2 linked regions of the Homo sapiens genome follow. The main gene of each other region encodes a partner of the protein of the gene in region 2 in a complex. Each region holds a gene or a part of one and is shown on either strand. Other genes may lie near its edges. A codon is read from its position in the direction of its gene.

Region 1 (9,878 bases), on a different chromosome or scaffold from region 2:
ATTGGATATTTACAAGAAAACAGCAACCCATTTCACATTCTTCCAAGTGTTTCCTTTCAAGCTGTGATTTGCAGAACCAATTAATTGGCTACCATAACCCAACATGTCAAAGCCAACTGCTTGTCTATGGACACTGAACTCTGTCTCTGTCTTGAGGGCTATTTTCACACTTGGGACTCTATCAGCAGCAATCCCCCAGCCCCGCCCTTGTTACTTACCACCATGCCCGCTTCACTCCATTGCATCATTTGTGCATACATTGTTTTCGCTCAGTAGACTCCTTTGCTCCTTTGAAAGCAAAGGTTACCCTTACTCATCTCAGTATACCCTCTACCTGCACTCCCCTTAACCAAGCGACCCGAGCAACTAACACAAGGCTTCGGACACACTAGACATCCAATAAGTGCTTACTAGAGTATCCAGTCAAATGCTGGAAAACAAGCCCCTTCAAAATTTAGGAAGTCTGAAAGAATGTTAAGGGCTTACTACTGAGAAGATGCTCAATAAATATTGGTTGATCATTCTGAAGAAATTTCGTATCATTTCAATGACTATTGCTAAAAAAGACATTCTGACCAGTGAATCATTGGATCTAGGGTTTACTTTCTTAGGGTATTTCTGCACATTTGTGGAGCCCACAGTTGTGCCTCTGGAGGACTCTGCCTAATGTTCCTGCCTCAGTCTCAGCAGCACCACTGAAACTCAGAGGCTTTGGAGTTCTGTGTTAGATCCTGTTCATGAAAAAACTCAACTGCCTTAAAAAGGATCAAAAACCACAGTATGAAAAGAGAGTGTTTTATCTTTTTACTGTCTTAATCGGATCTTAAATATTGATATGCTTTAAATTTATTTATCTTTGGATCTAACTTAAACAAGATGAAGATTGGAAGAGTTTTGGAGAGAAGGGTGCAGCATTCCAAATTGTGCCCTTAGTGTACTCATAAGGAATTGTTTTTGGCTCAAAGAACGGACAATGTGCCATGACAATCAGCCTAGGAAGGAAGCACTACTTACTAGTGATAGGGCTTGGTGAGACTGCTGATTGGTTTTGTCAGCTGACTTACTTGAATGTAGTTGTCAACAACTCCCCAAGCAAAGTCACAGGGAAATGTCCCTTCTAGGGGCTGATTTTCAGGTAAAGGAGGGAAGCCATTTTTCTCTATCAGCTTTTGGTAGAACAAGGCTGAAGACTTTGGCAACAACATCTTGTCCTGGCTTAGAAAGTCAACATAGAAGAGTCCACGCCTGATGCTGTAACCTCTGTGCCACTCGAAACCATCCATGAGGGACCATGCGGTATACCCGATGACATCCACCCCATCCAGCTTGATGGCTGCAAAGGGAAGAGGGGACAAGAGCAACATGACCCTTCGCTGGGCACTTGCATCATGGTTCAAGAGCAGCTGAGCGTTTCCTACTTAAATAAATAAAGTGTAATGCTTCTCGTTTGGTAAGCCAATGATTTTTCTTCTTGACGAAAGACTCTAATCAAACCTATATAACTCTACAAATAAATGCCCTCAAAATTGGCCTATCTAATATGTTTTTTGGATTTCTGAGCACCTTGAAAAAATAGTTCCTTATTTATAATAGATATTCTACAGGGCTGGAAAGATGTCTTGTACCACTTTCCATCCTAGACACCCAGCTTTGTGTCTGATGCAATAAATAAATAAATGAAGGCTTTAAAAGCATGATCTATTTATACTATTTTCTCTAGAAAACATGGACATTCCTTTTTCTTTAAAGTGTTTTATTCAACCAAAATAACAAGAACTGAAAAACATGTGCAGAGAGCTAGATATCCTGGGATTTGTTTTATGTTCAATTTAATCTAAAAATCTAGATTAATAACTGAAAGTTAAGTAATTACAAATATTATAACCCAGTTTCTCATTTACAAATGGGTTTTTAAAAATTAATTCAAGTTCCTCAAGACTCCAAATGAGAAAGGTGTTAAATGAATGCATTCTACTATTGCCAAAATGAATGTCTCCATTAGGATTTAAAAATATAAATTCACATCATTTATGTTAGATAATCTTAGAGATTTTTTTCCAGAAGATTTTGGCAGGAAATGAGAACTTTACCCACAATCATACCTTTTAAGGTTTCCATGATGAACTTTTTGAGGTAATACATATATTTGGCATCATCTCTCTTGGTGGTCCCTGAGACAAACCAGCCATTTTCCACAATAAATATTTGAGGATGGTTAAATTCAAGGTCAATCCAGGAAAGCAGTTGCCTCAGGTTGGGAGATTCCAATTGGCGGAACTTCATGTGAGGGTCCAAAAGTTGAAAACTCAAGGTGGGTCCAAAGCAAAGAGCAAAAAAGTCAGCAGTTCCTTTGATGAACTTTTTCTCAGATTCAGTAAAATCAGGCAGAATAGATGAAAGGTTATTCTTCATGCTCTCGGGATAGTCACCATCAATAAATACGGGTTTGGCAAACCAACCTAGTACAAAGTCCAGAGATTTTTGACATTCTTTGATGCTGTGGTCGGTCATTCTTCGAGGATTGATCCAGTGAGAGCTTAGGGCAATGGACACCTGACCTCCCTGAGTGGGACGGAAAGAAGTATTGTAGAGATGCCAGACTTTGGCATGAGCCTATGAAGAGAAAAACCATGGCAAATTTATCTCTAGTTGTGAGGAGAAATGCAATATAATACTTGAATCCCCAAATCAGATTATATCTGTTTCTCATCAAGCCTAACTTAATGACTAACAATATAAAAATCAGCTAGAACCAATACATTATTTCAAAGGTAGGTCACCCCACAGTGAGGTGCTACGGGGACTAGAGTTATTTCCATTGGTCTTTAGCAGTCAGTGGAAAAATGTAGATTCCTTGGGTTGAGTGTGTAGTTATCCACATTTTGAAAAGCTAATGAAATAAAAGAATTTGTTATAATAGCTTACTATTTAATTGACTTTGGATTATGTACTTTTTAATTTACGGGTTTCATGAAAAGAACCAATGCTACATCTGTGATCACACCAGGAATTTCTAAATAGGATTATATTTTTTATCCTGAGACTGGGAGTTTTCAAAATGACTCAGGTCGTTGGAGTTAATTTACTGTTTCATAGTCATCTCTCGTAGCTAAAATTCTAACAAGCAATCTTCTTTCTTCCCAAGAAGAATCAGTACAATAAATTAAAGAACCCACTCCAGCATCTAACCTTGGCCTACCCTCCAGAACTCTGGGACAGTTCTGGTTTCCCACAGACCCAGGGTGCTAGGTCCAAGCCAAGAGCAAAAAACAGCAAAATACAGCTGCAAGGAAATCAGTTGTCCATTGTTAGCATGCAGCCAGGAGTTTCGTACAGCAGTGAAAAGGGCTTTGCATCCATAAAACCAACTTTATACTCCCATAAATTCTTACTGACTTCTAATATCTTATTTTCATTTGTTTCCTTTTTATTTACAAGGAAGAGTGAAAATTATAGGGGTTTTTTCTCCCCTACTTGAAGTGAGTTTCTCTTTCTCTTTGAATTCCTTGATTTACTCTCCCTATTTTCCTACAAATACAAGTGTTGTTTATCAGCCTTTATTCCCCTAACATATCCTCTTTGAAAACTCCATTCAAATTCTCTGTTTGACTCCATATATTCTCCAAAATGATCATGCCAATTTTCATTCCACTCCCTGGGCCTGCAGAAACTCCTTTGTTCATTAAGCCAAACAGCCTCTTCAACATATCCTAAATATTCCTCTCGTGGTTCATTTCAGTACAGGCATCCAAGAATGGCCTCATCAACATTCTTATGGGTTCAGCCAAACATTTCAATGAAATAAGATAGTTTGTGGCTAACTTTTCTTTTTAGTTTCTTGGTGAACATATCTACTATGTTTCATTTCACTAAATGTATTTTTTCACGACCTGAAGCAGCTATCTATATGCTAAGAAGGAAATAGAGAATCAAATGTTGATCAAAAGAATAGTGGCACTTGCTTATGTGGTCTAAGAAACCAGGGTCTTAATCGTGCCACACTTCTGTCAGTTTTATGATGTCTCCTACCCTTCTCCATCTTCCCCATCACACCTCCCCAGGCCTCCCTTCCTCATTGAAAGGAAACCTCATGATGTTAACAGTTAAACAGAGGCTGGGCATGATGGCTCATGCCTGCAGTCCCAGCACTTTGGGAGGCCGAAATCCCAGCACATTGGGAGAATCCCTTGATACCAGGAGTTCACAACTAGCCTGCGCAAAGAGTGAGACCCCATTTCTACCAAAAAATCCAAAACTTAACCAGTCATGGTGCTGTGTGCCTGTAGTCCCAGCTACTAGGAAGGCTGAGGCAGGAGGATCACTTGAGCCCAGGAGATGGAGGCTTCGGTGAGCCATGTTCACACCACTGACCTCCAGCCCAGGTGACAGAGAAAGATATGTCTCACAAAACAAAAACAAACAAACAAATAAACACAACAGTTAAACATAAAATCCATTGAGCAGTCCAGGCTAGTACTCAGCAATTAACCTCTTGAGACCAAAAACCAGGGGACTTTCCTAATTTGACCGCATTTGAGGCCTATGAACAGTCATGTCCTAAATCTACCAGGCACCTTTCTGTAGAATAAGCGCTGAACAGGGAATGAAAGAGTGAAAGCAAACAAAGAATGCATTAATCTCGGTCAGTTTTGCAGGTAGCTGAAGTCATACAATGGAATTTTTTATAATTATAGACCACTCTTCTAACCTTGAGGACTTTAACAAGGCTCAGAGGAGGAGGTTTAGCAAGGACATGATAAATGACCTGGGCCATAAGGAAAGACATATATGGTCTCTGATGGCAGATAAAGTTCCTGCTCCATCACTCTTTTTTGTTTTGTTTTGTTTTAAGACTGGGTCTCACTCTGTCACCCTGACTGGAGTGAAGTGATGGGATCATGGCTCACTGCAGCCTCTACCTCCCAGGCTCAAGCAATCGTCCCACTTCAACCTCCCAAGTAACTGGGACTACAGGCACCTGGCTAATTTCTTTTTTATTTCTAGTAGAGATTAAATCTTGCTGTGTTGCCCTGGCTGGTCTTAAACTCCTGGGCTCAAGCGATCCTCAGCCTCCCACCTCAGCCTCCCAAAGTGCTGAGATTACAGGCATGAGCCACCGCACCTGGCCTTCGTCACTCTTGAGTTGGCCACATTCCTTAATTTGGGCAGGTAAATCTAACTTTCCTGTGCCTCACAGGACTGTTGTGAGGACTAAATGAGACAATTCATGTAAAACTCCTAATGCAGAGTTTGCAACAGTAGGATCTCCATGAATGCGTATCCCTTCTCTCTCTAGAGGATGAACAAACCAAAAGGAAGAATATTGCAGGTGGAGGAAACAACCCCTGCTAAGGAATTCAGCCCACAGTAGCGATGTGACATACTGATAAAACTTGGGGTTTGGAGTAGAAGAGACTTAGGTTTAGATTCCCTACTCCTCTAACTATGACCGGTGTGAGCCTCACTTACTGCTCTGTACAAGTGGGAATGACATCTATTGTCCCGTAGGGACACTGTGAGGATTAAATGACATAATGCAAGTGAGAGTGTCTTTTAAGTAGTTGATTATTTTACAGAGGAATACACTTGCAGCATTAGAAAGCATTTCAGATATCATTTGGATTAACTGCTCACCTCATGCCAAAACCCTGTTGAAACTTATTTGATTACTCTTTACAGCATCCTAACTTGGTGGTCATCCCAGGCATGGCACCGTCTCTAAGAAATCGCTGCAACCCCATGGACCCCCATACTGTGCTGCATGCCCCTCCTCTGGACACCAAGAGTCTCACACATACTTCTCTAATATCATTTACTGCAGATAATGAGGGGCATCCCTCCCCAGAATGAGCTCCCTGTGGAGTTCCCTCACTCCCTCCCTGGCACACGGAGGCCCTCATTGTCTGTTAAACTGAGTTGAACCAGCTTCACCACCTCTTCACGAGCCAGTTCACTCCCTTTGCGGATGGTACATTTGACAGATTAAATATTATGAGGCAGAGTGTGGGAAGGTCGCTATTTAGGATGTTGCAACAAATAAGGATGATTAACAGGGAGATGGTTACATATAGTCTTGCAATGCTTTCTAATTATTCCTGGTATGTTAATCTTATAGGCTTGTTGTCTTAAGATTGGGATTTAATAAAGTTATTGACAAGGACTCAGTGAAGTTATTAACTGTATGGCCAAGAACATTCATCTAAATACTATTTTTAATAGCCAAACATTGAAAACAATTGAAATGTCTAATATTCAAATATGTTTACCATGTATGAATGTTTTAATACATGATAGTATAACTAAAGAAATACCATTATTCAGGATAATGCAAAAGAATATCAATTAACATGTAAAAACGTTTCTAAAATACTCTGAACAGAAAAAGGTTATAAAATAGCAAGTAGAGTTTAGTAGCACTTTGATCTGGAGGGATTTATAACTTGTTAAAACCTGTTTTACAGCAGGATTGTGGGTGGTATAATTCACTTCATTTTACCCATCTATATATTTTTTTCATTTCCTACCATAAACATGTATTGCTCTAGAGATTAAAAAAATAAAATTCAAAAAGGGAAAATGGCTGATAGCAGTTGGATGGCAGGCCTGTTTGATGGTTATTAAAAGTCTCTGCTTCATCTCACCCTGCCCACCTGTTCTCCAACTTGCCCTATGGTCTCTGCCTGAAATCCAAGTCCCAGGCACATTGAACCCCACTTGAAGTTCTAAGATTATCTAGCCTTCCATGCTTTGGAGGTGCAGCTCTCTAAGGTATGTTTTGCCTATTCCCAGTTCCTTCACTCTTACACCCACTTTAAAACTCAGCTTAGATGTCGCCACCTCCAGGAAGCATTCCTTGACATCTTCCCTCTCCCTAGCATGGACTAAATGTCTGTTCTATGTGTTTCTATGATGGTCCTCTATCCAAGACCTTAACCATATATTATTGCATTTATTTAAGTGTCTGGATTGTAGGTGTTTTGAAGGCATTGAGTCTTTTATCTCTCAGATTCTAGCAAAGTCTCTGCAACAGAGCCAGTATTCAATAAACAGATCTAGAGGAATGAAGGCTGGCACTAAGAACCAGATCAAAGGGTCTAGGACAGAAGCAACATTTTTCTGGGCTGAAGCAGGAAAACTCTCTCATAAGCTACTCTGGTTCTTATTTTGCTTTCAAGATCATGAAAGACAGAAAACTTTCAGGCACATACCATTAAAAAATAAATTAGAAGGAATTTTATATGGCAGGCCTCTGAGAATAATACCATATTATCTCATAATGTGCTAATGATCCACTTTGGGGTATAAGTCTCTCTCGTATGTGATGCCCTCCTTGCTTCCTTCTTACCTTCCATCTAGATTTTGAAACATGGAGTCTGAAAAAAATCTAGAAGAAAAATGGATCTGGAATTCCTTCCTACCAACTAGCTAGTAGCCCCAAATTTTGGAAGTCGAGGAAAATAATTTTGGAAGTCGAGGAAAATACTCTGAATTCCACAGAACATATAGACATTTTCTCTTTGGCTAAATTATAAGCTCCCTGTCATTTGCCTATACGTATCCCCCACAGAACCCAACAAAAAGTTTCACACAAATAAGCTGCTTTTAAATGGTGGGTGGAAGGAAACAGGTGATGAGCCTCAGGTCCACTCCAGCTTTCTGCCTTGGGTTGTGTTCTAGGTATGGCTGAGGCAAATGAAGCCCACACAATACACAGCAGTATTGCTGAGCTGAAAAGGAAGAAAGCAATGATGAGGACTCTGAAGCAGGTCAACGTACTGGAGAGAAGAAATCTACACAAAGGAAGGACCTAGAAGTCTGCATGAGATTTCCCAAGGATCCTTGGCTGTCCATGCACAGGACAAGATTTTGTGAGGCTCAGCAAAGAGAAGCAGCCACAGGTCTGGGAGATGAATACCAAAGGTTGGGTAGGTCTGGAAAATATTGCATTTCAGAATAGCCAGAGTAGAAAAATGCAGCTGAGCACTTCAGGCATCCAGCTGAAACTCAGGAAGGTCATTACCTGAGAAGTAAGAACAAAGCAGGAATAGACCAGCTCTAACAAAGACTAAAGCCACATCAAGTAAATCTGGTAATTTAACTTCTTGGCAGAACTAAATACAACACCCTTTAAAAAGAGACAATATTGACCAGGCTTCCTATAATATCTCATTCATAGCACACAGAGCATAATAAAAATCTACTAGATATGTGAAAAAGCAGGAAAATGAAACCCTTAATTAAGGGGAAAAAAAGAAGTATTCAATATCAACAGAAGCCAAGATGTCCCAGACATTGGGATTAGCAGAGGACTTTAAAATAGCTATTATAAATATTTTTAAGGATTTCAAAGAAAAGATAGATATAATGAACAAATGGAGAATAACAACAGAGAAACAACAACTGAAGAAAACATGAAAATTCTAGAACTGAAAAGCGAAATAAACAAATTTTTGAATGGGATTAACAATATTAATTCTAAATGGAATAATAATAAGAATAAATAATGTAATCCCTAAAACTCACAAAGATATTAAAAGGTTTCTCTAAAAAGCCAATAAAATAAGAAAAATGAATTACCAAAAAATCTGATTTTTCCAAAAGATGCAGAAATAAAAAACAAAAAACACATGGAACAAAAAGAAAACAAATAGCAGGATTGTAAACATAAACCCAAACATATCAATAAATATTCAAATACACATGGACTAAATGTTCCAAGTACAAGACAGATGCTATGAAAGCAGATTTTAGGGGCTGGGTGCAGTGGCTCACGCCTGTAATCCCAGCACTTTGGGAGGCCAAGGCAGGTGGATCACGAGGTCAGGAGTTCAAGACCAGCCTGACCAACATGGTGAAACCCCGTCTCTACTAAAAATACAGGTGCCTGTAATCCCAGCTACTCGGGAGGCTGAGACAGGAGAATTGCTTGAACCCGGGAAGCAGAGATTGCAGTGAGCCAAGATTGTGCCACTGCACTCCAGCCTGGGCAACAGAGCAAGACTCCATCTCAAAAAAAAAAAAAAGAAAGTAGATTTTAGAAAAGTAAGTTTCAATTACATTCTGTGTGCAAGAAATATACTATAAATATAAAGTGATCATGTAAAAGAAAAAGAATGGAAAGAGACATATTATGCAAATGGACAGCATTAAAAATCTGGCATGGTTATATTAATAACAAAATGGAGGCTTTGAACATCACTATAATTCACCTAGAGCTAACAGACATATATATTAATAGAACATGCCACCCACCTAAAAAAATCAGAATATACATTTTTCTCAAGTGCACATGATACATTTTCCAGGATAGATCATATGTTAGACCAGAAAATAAGTCTTAATAAATTTTAAACTGTTGAGATCATAAAAAGTATTGTTTCTTACCACAATGAAATGAAACTAGAAATCAATAACAAAAGGAAAACTAGAATATTCACAAATACGTGGAAATTGTTGACACACTCAAACAAGCAATAAGTCAATGAAGAAATCACAAGGTAGATTAGCAAAAGCTTAAATGTGTATATAAAAAACTAACTGAATATGTAACATACCAATACTTATAAATTGCAGCAAAAGCAATGCTCAGAGGAAATTTTATAGCTTTAAATACCTACATCAAAAAAAAAAACAAGATATATCTCAATAACTTAGTCTTCCACCTTAAGAAAATAAAAAAGAAGAGCCAACTAAACTCACAGCTAACAGAATAAAGGAACTAATAAAAATTAGAATGGATATACACAAAATACAGAGCAGAAAAATTATAGAATCAACAAAATCAAAAGTTGGTTCTTTGAAAAAAATCAACAAAACAGACCAACCTTTAGCAAGACTGACTAGAGAAAAAAAGAGAAAAGAAGCAAATTAATGCAATC
Region 2 (9,878 bases):
TTACTGTTTCAGAATAGGAACCAGTCCTTCAAGTTCAGCTTAAAACCATCAGGTAAAAACAGTTGCCCAACATTTCTCTCATAACCAAAAAGAATAGATCAAAGTATAAGGTTAGTATGTGATGGCAGTGAGAAAAAAAAAAGTGACTGGGAAGAAGCTGTTGTTGAATCGACTTTGCTTGTTAATATACTGTCCTTTAGGTGGTCATTTAAAGAGAGGGAGGAAAATGGAGCCCCCTTACAGGAAGAACCGCAGTAATGGGGTAAGGCTTCATTTAATGCACCAAGAATTTCCAAGGGGATTGAGACCCAGATGTGTCAGCCTAGGAGAGTTTTAACTAATCGAAGAGCCACTGCTGCTGCAGAGCCCTAGAGACCACAGACAAGAGCCTGACCATGTGGTTGTCTTTTCATAACTTCTATAACATGTCCCCTGATTTCTTTCCCCCTGAGTCCTTGATGCCACTTCATTTAGAGAAAAGGACACGATTTTTCAGTCCACAGAAAACCTAACCCAGAGCAGTCCCAGTCTCTCAAAGCCCCCTTCCCAGTCACATTTTTGTAGTTTGTTCAGAATGGATTCCTACTCAACCTGGAAGTAGAGCCTTAATTAAATGCCTCTTAGGAGAGTTGGAATTTATTTCCATTTTGAAAAGCAAATTCTAGCAGGGCAGATTTTCGTGAGCCAGTGTAAAAGCTATTTATTCCTTAGACCAAATTTTCAAAAACCAGAGATGGGGCCAAAAGGTGAGGCTGTATCATGAACTGCTTGGGAACAGAGTGGGGCCATTCTGGGCCCTCTGGCTGTGGCTGCACAGAGGGAGACAGCGAGACAGAAGGTGCTCACCCTGTAGGGAGGCTGAGTTTTCTATTATGATTCCTGCCTCATTTCAGCAAGCATCAAGTCTAGCTGTCAAGTTTTCACCAGCCTACCACCAGTCTTTTGACAGCTCTTCCCCAGAGATGCTCAAGGAAGAACGAAGGCTTGAAAGTAGTGTTTTCATCAACTTGCCCCATTCAGCTGTTAATGTCAAGGTTTGCACACTCAAATGCCAGTGGGATCGGGGCATCTAACATAAATGCATAGGGCAGTGGAGAAGCTTCTGGGATCTCCGATTTCCTCTTCCCTACACCTTCAAAGTCTTGAGCTCAGGAACCCACTGCTTTTTTTTTTTTTTTTTTTTTTTTTTTTTTTTATGCTTAAAAGTGATAAAGAGGAGAGGCACAAGGAAGAGAAATATGTTGGGAGAGACCCCTTCTCTCTACCTTCATGAAGGGGAAATTTCTAGTTTACCTGTTGGGGTTTCCTATTGGGAAAGGTGTTCTATATGGAGTGAGGAAGGCGGTGAAACCCCATGACTTGGGCCTCAAAGGTTGGTTCTCACAGGACCTCCTGTGGAAGGGACCCCAGAGAAGCAGCAAATTCCATACATGCCCCTGTCACCTTTCCCATCCTCGGAACGTCAAGGGACCTGGTCCTTGGGAAGAGCTGCGTTTGCTGAGGGATGGGTTAAAGAGGGTGCCCTTCCAGCGACCCTAGATGAACTTGGCGAAGGGGCGGCAGCCTTCCGGGCCCGTTCCCCCAGCGTGCGTGTTCACTCGACCGCCCCTGACCACCCCTAATGGGTCACTGGCCATCGGGCTGTTGTCCTCGGCGCTCGGGAGCTCCTGTGAACAGGAGGCCGGGGCCGGGGTCATCCGGGCCCGGGGCTTCAGCACGTTCAGGGGGTCCCGCTCCGAGTCGTCCTCGGCGCTCCGGGTGTGCCGCCGTGGTATGGGGGTGTTGAAGTGAATTAGGGGGATCTCGTTCCTCCGGGACAGGAACTGGGAGTACGGGGGTGGGTTCATGCCTGGCAGGAAGGCTCTCTTCGCCCGGCCCAGACTGACCAGGAAGTGATACTGAGGAGAGTGGTAGACGTCGTACCCGTTTTCCAGCGTCTGGTGTTGGAACCTGCAGTTCTCCGGGTCGAAATAGTGCTGGAAGGACAAGAGCGAACCACGTGAAGGCTGGCAGTGGGGGCCCCACCCACTCCCCAGCTCCTCCTGGGGCCACATGCTTGTGCCAGCCGGCCTGAAGCTCTGCAGTTCTTAGGGCGTTGAGCCTTCACCCCTTTGTTCCCTGCTGGGGTAGAGTGGTTTTGATTAATGCTCAAGCCCTGACTATATAGTTCGCCCTTTCAGAGACTACGACTACTGGGGCCTCCGCTTACTGCCTGGAGGCCCGGGCTGGCCTGGCCTGTGGTTTTCCTGGAGTAGGCACCACCTTGTCCTTCCTGCCCTCTATCTTTTCCAAGCCTCTGCTGGCTGAAAATTGGCTTGGGTTTGTCTCTTTACTGGAGAAAGGAGAGGGGATGGAGTTTATAGGGTCAAACATGAATGAGAGCACTGACGGGATTGGAGACATGAACTTTGCTGACAGATGAGCTGGGTTTGAATCCTCTACCACTAGTACTGGGTTTTACTGAGTGCCCCACGAAGGCCTTTGCCTGTTATTTCTTTTAATCCTCAAGCTCCACAAAGTAAGCAGTTTACAGATCAGGACTATCTACATGCCTAGAGGGGTTAACGGATGTTTAGTTAGTTATCTATATTTCAATAGTGGTTCAACAGATTTTTTGTTTGTTTGTTTACCTACTCTAGCCAGACACTATTGTAGGGGCTGGGATGCAGCAGAAAGCAAAACAGAAAGTCTCTGTTCTTGTGGAGTTTCTAGTGGGCATGTGTGGTGGTCAGAGACTCCTGAGATAAGCAGTCCTACTATTTTACTATCTCAAAATCCTCCAAAAGAGGCCAGCAGCCTTTAGTTTGGGAAATCCTTTGCTTACCAATCCGAATGAATAGCTATCACAATTGGGGCAGGGGTTATTAATTAAAAATCTTTAACTGGAGGGAGCTCCACAGGTCACGTGGTCTATTCCACTTCGCTTTTTCCAAGTGAAAATGCTGAAGTTTGGAGAAGTGAGGAGATTTACCCAAAGTCACAGCTAGTCCCAGAATCAAGAAGACACCAATGGCTTTTCACCCTTTCTAATGTACTTTACAACGTGAATTGACATGACTTGAGGACCTACGACTACATACCAGGGCCTGTGCTAGATTCAAAAGTGGGTTCCACAACCCAAATGTCCAACAATGATAGACTGGATTAAGAAAATGTGGCACATATACACCATGGAATACTATGCAGCCATAAAAAATGATGAGTTCATGTCCTTTGTAGGGACATGGATGAAATTGGAAACCATCATTCTCAGTAAACTATCGCAAGAACAAAAAACCAAACACCGCATATTCTCACTCGTAGGTGGGAATTGAACAATGAGATCACATGGACACAGGAAGGGGAACATCACACTCTGGGGACTGTTGTGGGGTGGGGGGAGGGGGGAGGGATAGCATTGGGAGATATACCTAATGCTAGATGATGAGTTAGTGGGTGCAGCACACCAGCATGGCACATGTATACGTATGTAACTAACCTGCACAATGTGCACATGTACCCTAAAACTTAAAGTATAATAATAAAAAAAAAAAGTGGGTTCCAATGGGCAGTGCAGACTAGGGGCTGAGAGCCTGGGATCTGGAGCCAGATTGCCTGAGTTCAAACCCCAGCTATTAAACGTGAGCATTCACGTTTAATTCATACTTAGACTGCATGAAGTATCAGTGGAAACAGGTCACCAGGGTACACTGCAAATGGAATTGTTAAGCTAGAAAAGTCTATGTCGTGTCAAAGAAATTAGGTTAATTGTTTGCAAATGGTGACCAACACAAAAAAGAAACTCACTGATCCAAAAATGTTGCCTCTGAAATCCATGCAGAGGTATCTTCTGCTCATCACACCTGTAATCACCACAAAGCCAGCATCCTCTGATCTGATCATCAGGGCACCTATGGAGAAAAACAGGCAGGGCAAAGACTCATTGCCATCCAATTCCCACCTTCAAGCACCTCCTGAAAACCTACCTTCATGAAACCTCCCTGGATTGATTTTAAGGGTGGTGATAACTTCAGCACTCTTAAATTCAGCCTCATTTCTGCATATTCAGCGTTTCTTCTGACATCCTCTCTTGCCCCCAACACACATACAGTCATTCACCTCCTGCTTCATCTTGTTGCCTGTATGGGGCACTCTGAGCTCCTGGAATTCTTCTACCTGTGCTGAACACATGTTTCTCTCTCTCTACCTGGACCGTCTTTATTTTCCCTTTTGCCTTACTAATACCTTTGAATGTTTGTGGTGATAGTCACATTCTTCCATGCCTTCTACTTTGTGATTTTTAAATCTATGCTGAGATGTCTTTCAAGGATCCAGCTTGCCATAGAGTCTGATTCTCCTCCTGGATGTCTGTGTAATTGTCTAATACATCAGTCAACACCCAGTATGTGTACAGAATGGTAGTAGAGTTGATCTCCCTCTTCCTTCTCTACTTATTGAAGTCACTCACTCTTCAAGACCAGGCTCAGGCGTCACCATCTCTATGAAGACTTTCCTCATCTTTCCATTCAAAATCAGTTGTTCTTCCTTCTCAGCTCCTCAGGACAATGCCTTCACCTCTATTACAGCATGTATTCCATTTAACTTGCTTTAGCTGAGTTTACCTATCCAGTGCGTTCCTTAGAGTGAGCTGCTTAGGAGCAGAGGGTATAACTGTTTATGTTGAATCAATATAAGTGACGGATGGAATTTTCTTCTTGGCTCTTCTTGGGTTGGTTCTTTGTCATTTTCTCACTTGGTGGTGACCTCTCCAGGTGCAGCCCCTCATGGACTTTCAGTGTCCCCTCTCAAAAACTAGTCTCCGACAAGGGCCTGAAACCCATTCACACGACCTACCTCTTAAGTAATTGATAATGGCTTTAAATTACTGTTTTGTGGCAAAGGCACAATTAGATCATATACTGGTGTAACATGCGTGATAATTCAGCGAGATTTCTTCCCCACATGTTATTTAATTACCTGACATTTTCTGTTAAAAATCATTACTTTAGGTCTTTGGGGCTACTTCCAGTTGCCTATCACAGAATTTCTAGGTGCATCTCATCTGACCTCATAGCCTCCAGGGAGGCAGCTAGAATCCCATGCAGGGATTCTAATTCCTCTTCTGCAACTGTAGCTTGGAGAGGTTGTAAATGCCCAATGTTTGTGCCTAGCAAGTGATGGAGCCTTGTGGGGGTGATTTAAAGGCCAAAGCTCTTCTCCTATCCCATGCAGGCTCAATACAAGGACCTTTGAGGAAAATAAGCAGCAATAATTAGGTACTAGCTGAGTAGAAATCATGATAGGGACTGAAATTGGACTGACGCGGAACAGAGGGAATGAGGGTGGAGACAAGCCCCAGAAAGGTGAGAAAGGAAGAGGGCCAAAGAGAGAAGTTAATTTGTTTCAAAGTTTGGCTGAGGGGAACCTTGAGGAAAGCTTCCCAGAAAGTGGACTGGGGTATGACAGGCGCAAAGGATGCTTAAATTCCTCCACAGTGGTGTCTGCCTATGTGTCTCAAATGTATGGCTAGTTTTGTGGTAAACCTTTGGAGAAATATAAGGAACGTGTAAGAAATGGTTTCGACTGGGTGCGGTGGCTCATGCCTGTAATCCCAGCACTCTGGGAGGCTGAGGCGGGTGGATCATGAGGTCAGGAGATCAAGACCATCCTGGCTAACACGGTGAAACCTCTTCTCTACTAAAATACAAAAAAAATTAGCCAGGTGTGTTGGTGGGCACCTGTAGTCCCAGCTACTCGGGAGGCTGAGGCAGGAGAATGGCATGAACCTGGGAGGCGGAGCTAGCAGTAAGCCGAGATTGCACCACTGCACTCCAGCCTGGGCGACAGAGCGAGACTCCGTCTCAAAAAAAAAAAAAAAGAAATGGTTTCTGTTCTGGTGACTTTTCAGTCTAATTGGGAAAAAATTACATTTAGTAATGGTCTTTGAGCGGTTGCACTCTAAGCACTTTACATATTTTAAATTCTCAAAACAAATTTTATATTGTTAGTACTGATTATTATTATTATTAGTAGTAGTAGTAGCAGCAATATCCTAATTTAAGTGATAAGGAAACTAAGACAGGATTGAAACTCAGGTCAGAGACATCTTCCCACCACCCGGTAACAAGCCTCCAGCAGAAATCACTAAGAGTCTGAGAAGACAATATCAAATGCTAAAATACATGCTGCAGGCAGTGAGGACAAGGAGTCACAGCAGCACTAAGGGCTCGGGGAAGGGGCACTGAGCCAGGTGCCAAGAACCAGGGGACTTGGATTTTGGTCCCAATTGTGCCACTTGCTGACCTTGCACTAGCCTCAGTTTCCTCAGCTGTGAAATAGAACAATGGCTGTCCTGCCTACTTCATAGGGTGATGATCGAAGGGGATAATGGTGGTAAAAGTGACTCGAAAGTGTCGAGCAAACAGAGGACATCACGTGGCGTGTTCTGACCTGCTGTTTATGCCGGGCCCATGCCTTGACAGGTGTGCTGGCTTGATGCTTGGGGTCAGTGTGGGCAGTGTGTATGGCACACACGCTCCTGGTTTCCAGAGCCAGTCCCCCTAGAAAACATCCGGCGGTGGTTGAGGAACTGTGAGAAGCTGCTACGGAGGGCACACAGACTCTTCCATCAAACAGTGTGAGCCAATGTGAAAGTTTAGAAAATGTGAGAGAGTCAGAGTTTCTTTCCTTTGTGCTTTCAAAAGGCATCTTTTCGCAGTCTGCACAGATTCAAGGGAGAATTTTGCAGAAGGAAGGAACAAACCATGGACTGCCGGAGCAACCAGCCCCGCCTGTTGGAGCTGAGCAGGCTTAATGGACTTTGCCTTCAATGACGGAGGTGTCTCCGTGCGTGTGACCTTGGAACAGCTTGGGATTTGGGGTCAAGGTGTCCTCTAGGTCTTTTACTACCTGTCTGACCTTCAGCCAGTTATTTAAGTTCTTTAACTCTTGTTTTTTCACATATAAAATGAGGACAGCAGAAACATTTACCTCATTTGGTCATCTTGAAGACATAATGAGATAATGTTTTTATCCTTTAGAAAGCACTTCCTAAGTGCTAGTAATTTTTACTATTACCACTTTGCTTCAACCTCTGCTTATAGAAGTAGAAAATTATCTACTCCATTCTACTCTTGTGGCCAGTAAGTGATAAATAAGATGATAGCAGTGAAGTGCTTTGAGCACCTCAAAAGAAAAACGTATGAAAAAGGCTGAAGGAGCTCAGCGGTAATTCAGCTTCAATAAAGATAGTTCCTATGGGGAAGATGGAGGAAGTGAAAATAGCAGGATCTAGGAAATGATATTACCAGGGACAATAAGCATCTCTCTCTTGCTGTTTCCATATAATAAGGATAAAGGGGAGTCAGAGGATGGCCTTGTTCATGGAACGGGTGATAAGGACACCAGAGGGGTACCTGGCAGCAGCGCTTGTGAGTCCTAAGGGAGCTTGAAGAATCTGGTAGGCAGGAGATAACTTCATTTTGTCAAGTCCAGTGACCCAAAGATGGGTTGTGCACTCAACTCTTAAGAATTTCTTACAGCAAAGTAATAAGATAAACCAGAATTCAATAGAAATGGATAATTAGGAGGGGAAAAAATACCCCTCACATTTTAGGTTTCCATCAGTGTAAAAACATTGCTTAACAGTCACTGATGAGGTCATTACAAATCCTTCACCAGACATTTAATTAGTTGTGCTTCTTATCTACATGCATTAATCTTTCCTCTTTCTTTTGGGTAACGTTTTTTTTTTGAGACGGAGTCTCACTCTGTCACCCAGGCTGGAGCACAGTGGTGCGATCTCAGCTCACTGCAAGCTCCACCTCTGGGGTACAAGCGATTCTTCTGCCTCAGCCTCCCAAGTAGCTGTGACTACAGGCAGGCACCACACCCCACTAATTTTTGTATTTTTAGTAGAGACAGGGTTTCCCCATGTTGGCCAGACTGGTCTCGAACCCCTGACTTCAAGTGATCCTCCCACCTCGGCCTCCCAAAGTGCTGAGATTATACGCGTGAGCCACCGCATCTGGCCTCTTTTGGGTAACTTTTAATTGTAGTGTGTAATTTTTTCCTGCACTTTTTTTTTCCCATAATACACATGACAACTCATTGAACAGTACAAAAAGTTATCTACATAGACTAGGAAAAGTAGATCTCCCTCCCACTACCCTGACCCGAAGTTCCCCTCCCCGCATTCATGTTTAACTCTTTAAAGATGCAATGTTTAGCTAGTGCCTATGTCTAAGGAAACAAAATCACATTTCTATTTTTAAAAATCTGAAGTCAGTTCAATTTATTTTGCTGCTTCTCAGTCATTTTAATTCACTCTAACTAGCACTCAGTGATCCCTTGGGGCCTGATACGAGGTGGGCTTTCAAGGAAAAGGTCTAAGTTCAGACTGCCAGCCCAGGAGGTTGACTCTTCACACTCACTCCCCACCGTAGCCGGCCTGTTCTGTTCTACCCTAATTCTTGTTCAGGAAGAAACGTCTTTAAGGAGTTCCTTTCAGCAACGGGATTCCAGGATTCGAGACAAGTTGTATAAACATTCTCTAGTTGGATGCAGCCCTTTCCATCTAAGAGAATCAAAATAATTTACCATAATCTACTATTCTGCATTTTAAATCACATATAGTCTTTTTTTTTTTTTTTTTTTTTTTTTTGAGATGGAGTCTCGCTCTGTCACCCAGGCTGGAGTGCAGTGGCGCAATCTCGGCTCACTGCAAGCTCTGCCTCCCGGGTTCACGCCATTCTCCTGCCTCAGCCTCCCAAGTAGCTGGGACTACAGGCGCCTGCCACCACGCCTGGCTAATTTTTTGTATTTTTAGTAGAGATGGGGTTTCACTGTGTTAGCCAGGATGGTCTCAATCTCCTGACCTCGTGATCTGCCTGCCTCGGCCTCCCAGAGTGCTGGGATTACAGGCGTGAGCCACCACACCTGGCCCACATATAGTCTTGAATTAGAGTAAGGGTGTCCCCTCCATGAGACATGCAAAATTGCATTTCCTGAAAGTCTGGTAGTGAGCTGGCTGACAAGGTAGGACGACAGACCATGAGGTCCTTGAAGGGTTGTGTCTTAGTTTTCAGCCACAGCGCTTGGTAGAATGCCAGGCACATGGTAGATCCTATTAAATATCCATTGAATAAAATGAACAACACTTCGGGTGCATCAAGTGTATCCAGATTTAATTGAAATTTTTGCCATGAGACTCAAACTTGGTTTCCAAGATGTTGACTCCTGAGTCTTACTATATTCTCTGGAGTTCTGGAACCTGTTTGGTATTCGGAGAGAACTTTCCTCTCTCCTTTTATCTCCTGTCAATATGCATTTAGTACTTGAAGAGGTTAAACTGTCAATTTCGCATGTTATATATCTTGCAACTTAATTTTGCATGTTGTATATCTTGCAACCAGGTTTAAGGACCTTTGGAGCCTAGAAGAATAAATGCCTCACACACAGCAAGGTCACAGCAAAAATAATTAATTTATTTATTACAACAATAAAGGGCAAATCATAATTCCTATGTTTTCTTTAGTTAGAGATTGTCTAACTAATTTTTCTTTCCTTTAATTTGAGCTATATTGGATCAGTTTGCATTTTTCTGTATGCTTTGAGGTGTTTTCTCACGTTTTCTTAAAATAGAAGATCCAGTCTTTTTCAATATCTATCCCTGCTTTCACCACATTACCCCTTATATAGGTGCACACAAAGGGACCCTCATTTGAATCATTGCTAATGGATTGATTATTGTGGATTGTGATCCAATTCTCCACAAACCTGATCTTTAAAAACATTCCAGTTGTCTCATGTTGCCAATAAGTTTCTAACTAGCTTGACTTGCTACTGACTGGACACCTTTCAGTTCCACAGAGAAGAATCACCAACTCATACTGGGTACC

Evidence for each region.
Region 1: the proteins of FGF23 (region 2) and KL are in contact, whole or in part, in a cryo-EM structure (PDB 7YSH), measured with the Homo sapiens proteins. Residues at the interface, in NP_065689.1 of Homo sapiens: Leu39, Met74 (codon at 3,882), Ala80 (codon at 3,864), Val88 (codon at 3,840), Arg91 (codon at 3,831), Leu166 (codon at 1,796), Ile167 (codon at 1,793), Phe169 (codon at 1,787), Asn170 (codon at 1,784), Ile173 (codon at 1,775), Arg175 (codon at 1,769), His177 (codon at 1,763), Asp184 (codon at 1,742), Ser185 (codon at 1,739), Glu186 (codon at 1,736), Arg187 (codon at 1,733), Asp188 (codon at 1,730), Pro189 (codon at 1,727), Leu190 (codon at 1,724), Asn191 (codon at 1,721), Val192 (codon at 1,718), Leu193 (codon at 1,715), Lys194 (codon at 1,712), Pro195 (codon at 1,709), Arg196 (codon at 1,706), Ala197 (codon at 1,703), Arg198 (codon at 1,700), Met199 (codon at 1,697), Thr200 (codon at 1,694), Pro201 (codon at 1,691); in NP_004786.2 of Homo sapiens: Phe377 (codon at 2,304), Lys385 (codon at 2,280), Leu389 (codon at 2,268), Glu390 (codon at 2,265), Pro392 (codon at 2,259), Trp417 (codon at 2,184), Phe418 (codon at 2,181), Ser420 (codon at 2,175), Lys429 (codon at 2,148), Tyr432 (codon at 2,139), Tyr433 (codon at 2,136), Lys436 (codon at 2,127), Phe437 (codon at 2,124), Arg468, Ser471, Ile472, Arg556, Arg693, Asn694, Met695, Thr696, Tyr697, Ile735, Val752, Phe755, Asp756, Asn782, Asn783, Leu785, Ile812.

What each region holds. Positions count from the first base shown.
Region 1 is NC_000013.11:33,046,502-33,056,379, reverse strand, and holds part of KL (klotho precursor), read right to left. Parts: intron 2,614-9,878; coding exon 2,103-2,613; intron 1,334-2,102; coding exon 1,065-1,333; coding exon of another isoform or gene 1,015-1,064; intron 1-1,014. UniProt on the Homo sapiens protein: May have weak glycosidase activity towards glucuronylated steroids. However, it lacks essential active site Glu residues at positions 239 and 872, suggesting it may be inactive as a glycosidase in vivo.
Region 2 is NC_000012.12:4,368,808-4,378,685, forward strand, and holds part of FGF23 (fibroblast growth factor 23 precursor), read right to left. Parts: intron 3,891-9,878; coding exon 3,787-3,890; intron 1,977-3,786; coding exon 1,536-1,976; 3' UTR 1-1,535. UniProt on the Homo sapiens protein: Regulator of phosphate homeostasis. Inhibits renal tubular phosphate transport by reducing SLC34A1 levels. Up-regulates EGR1 expression in the presence of KL. Acts directly on the parathyroid to decrease PTH secretion. Regulator of vitamin-D metabolism.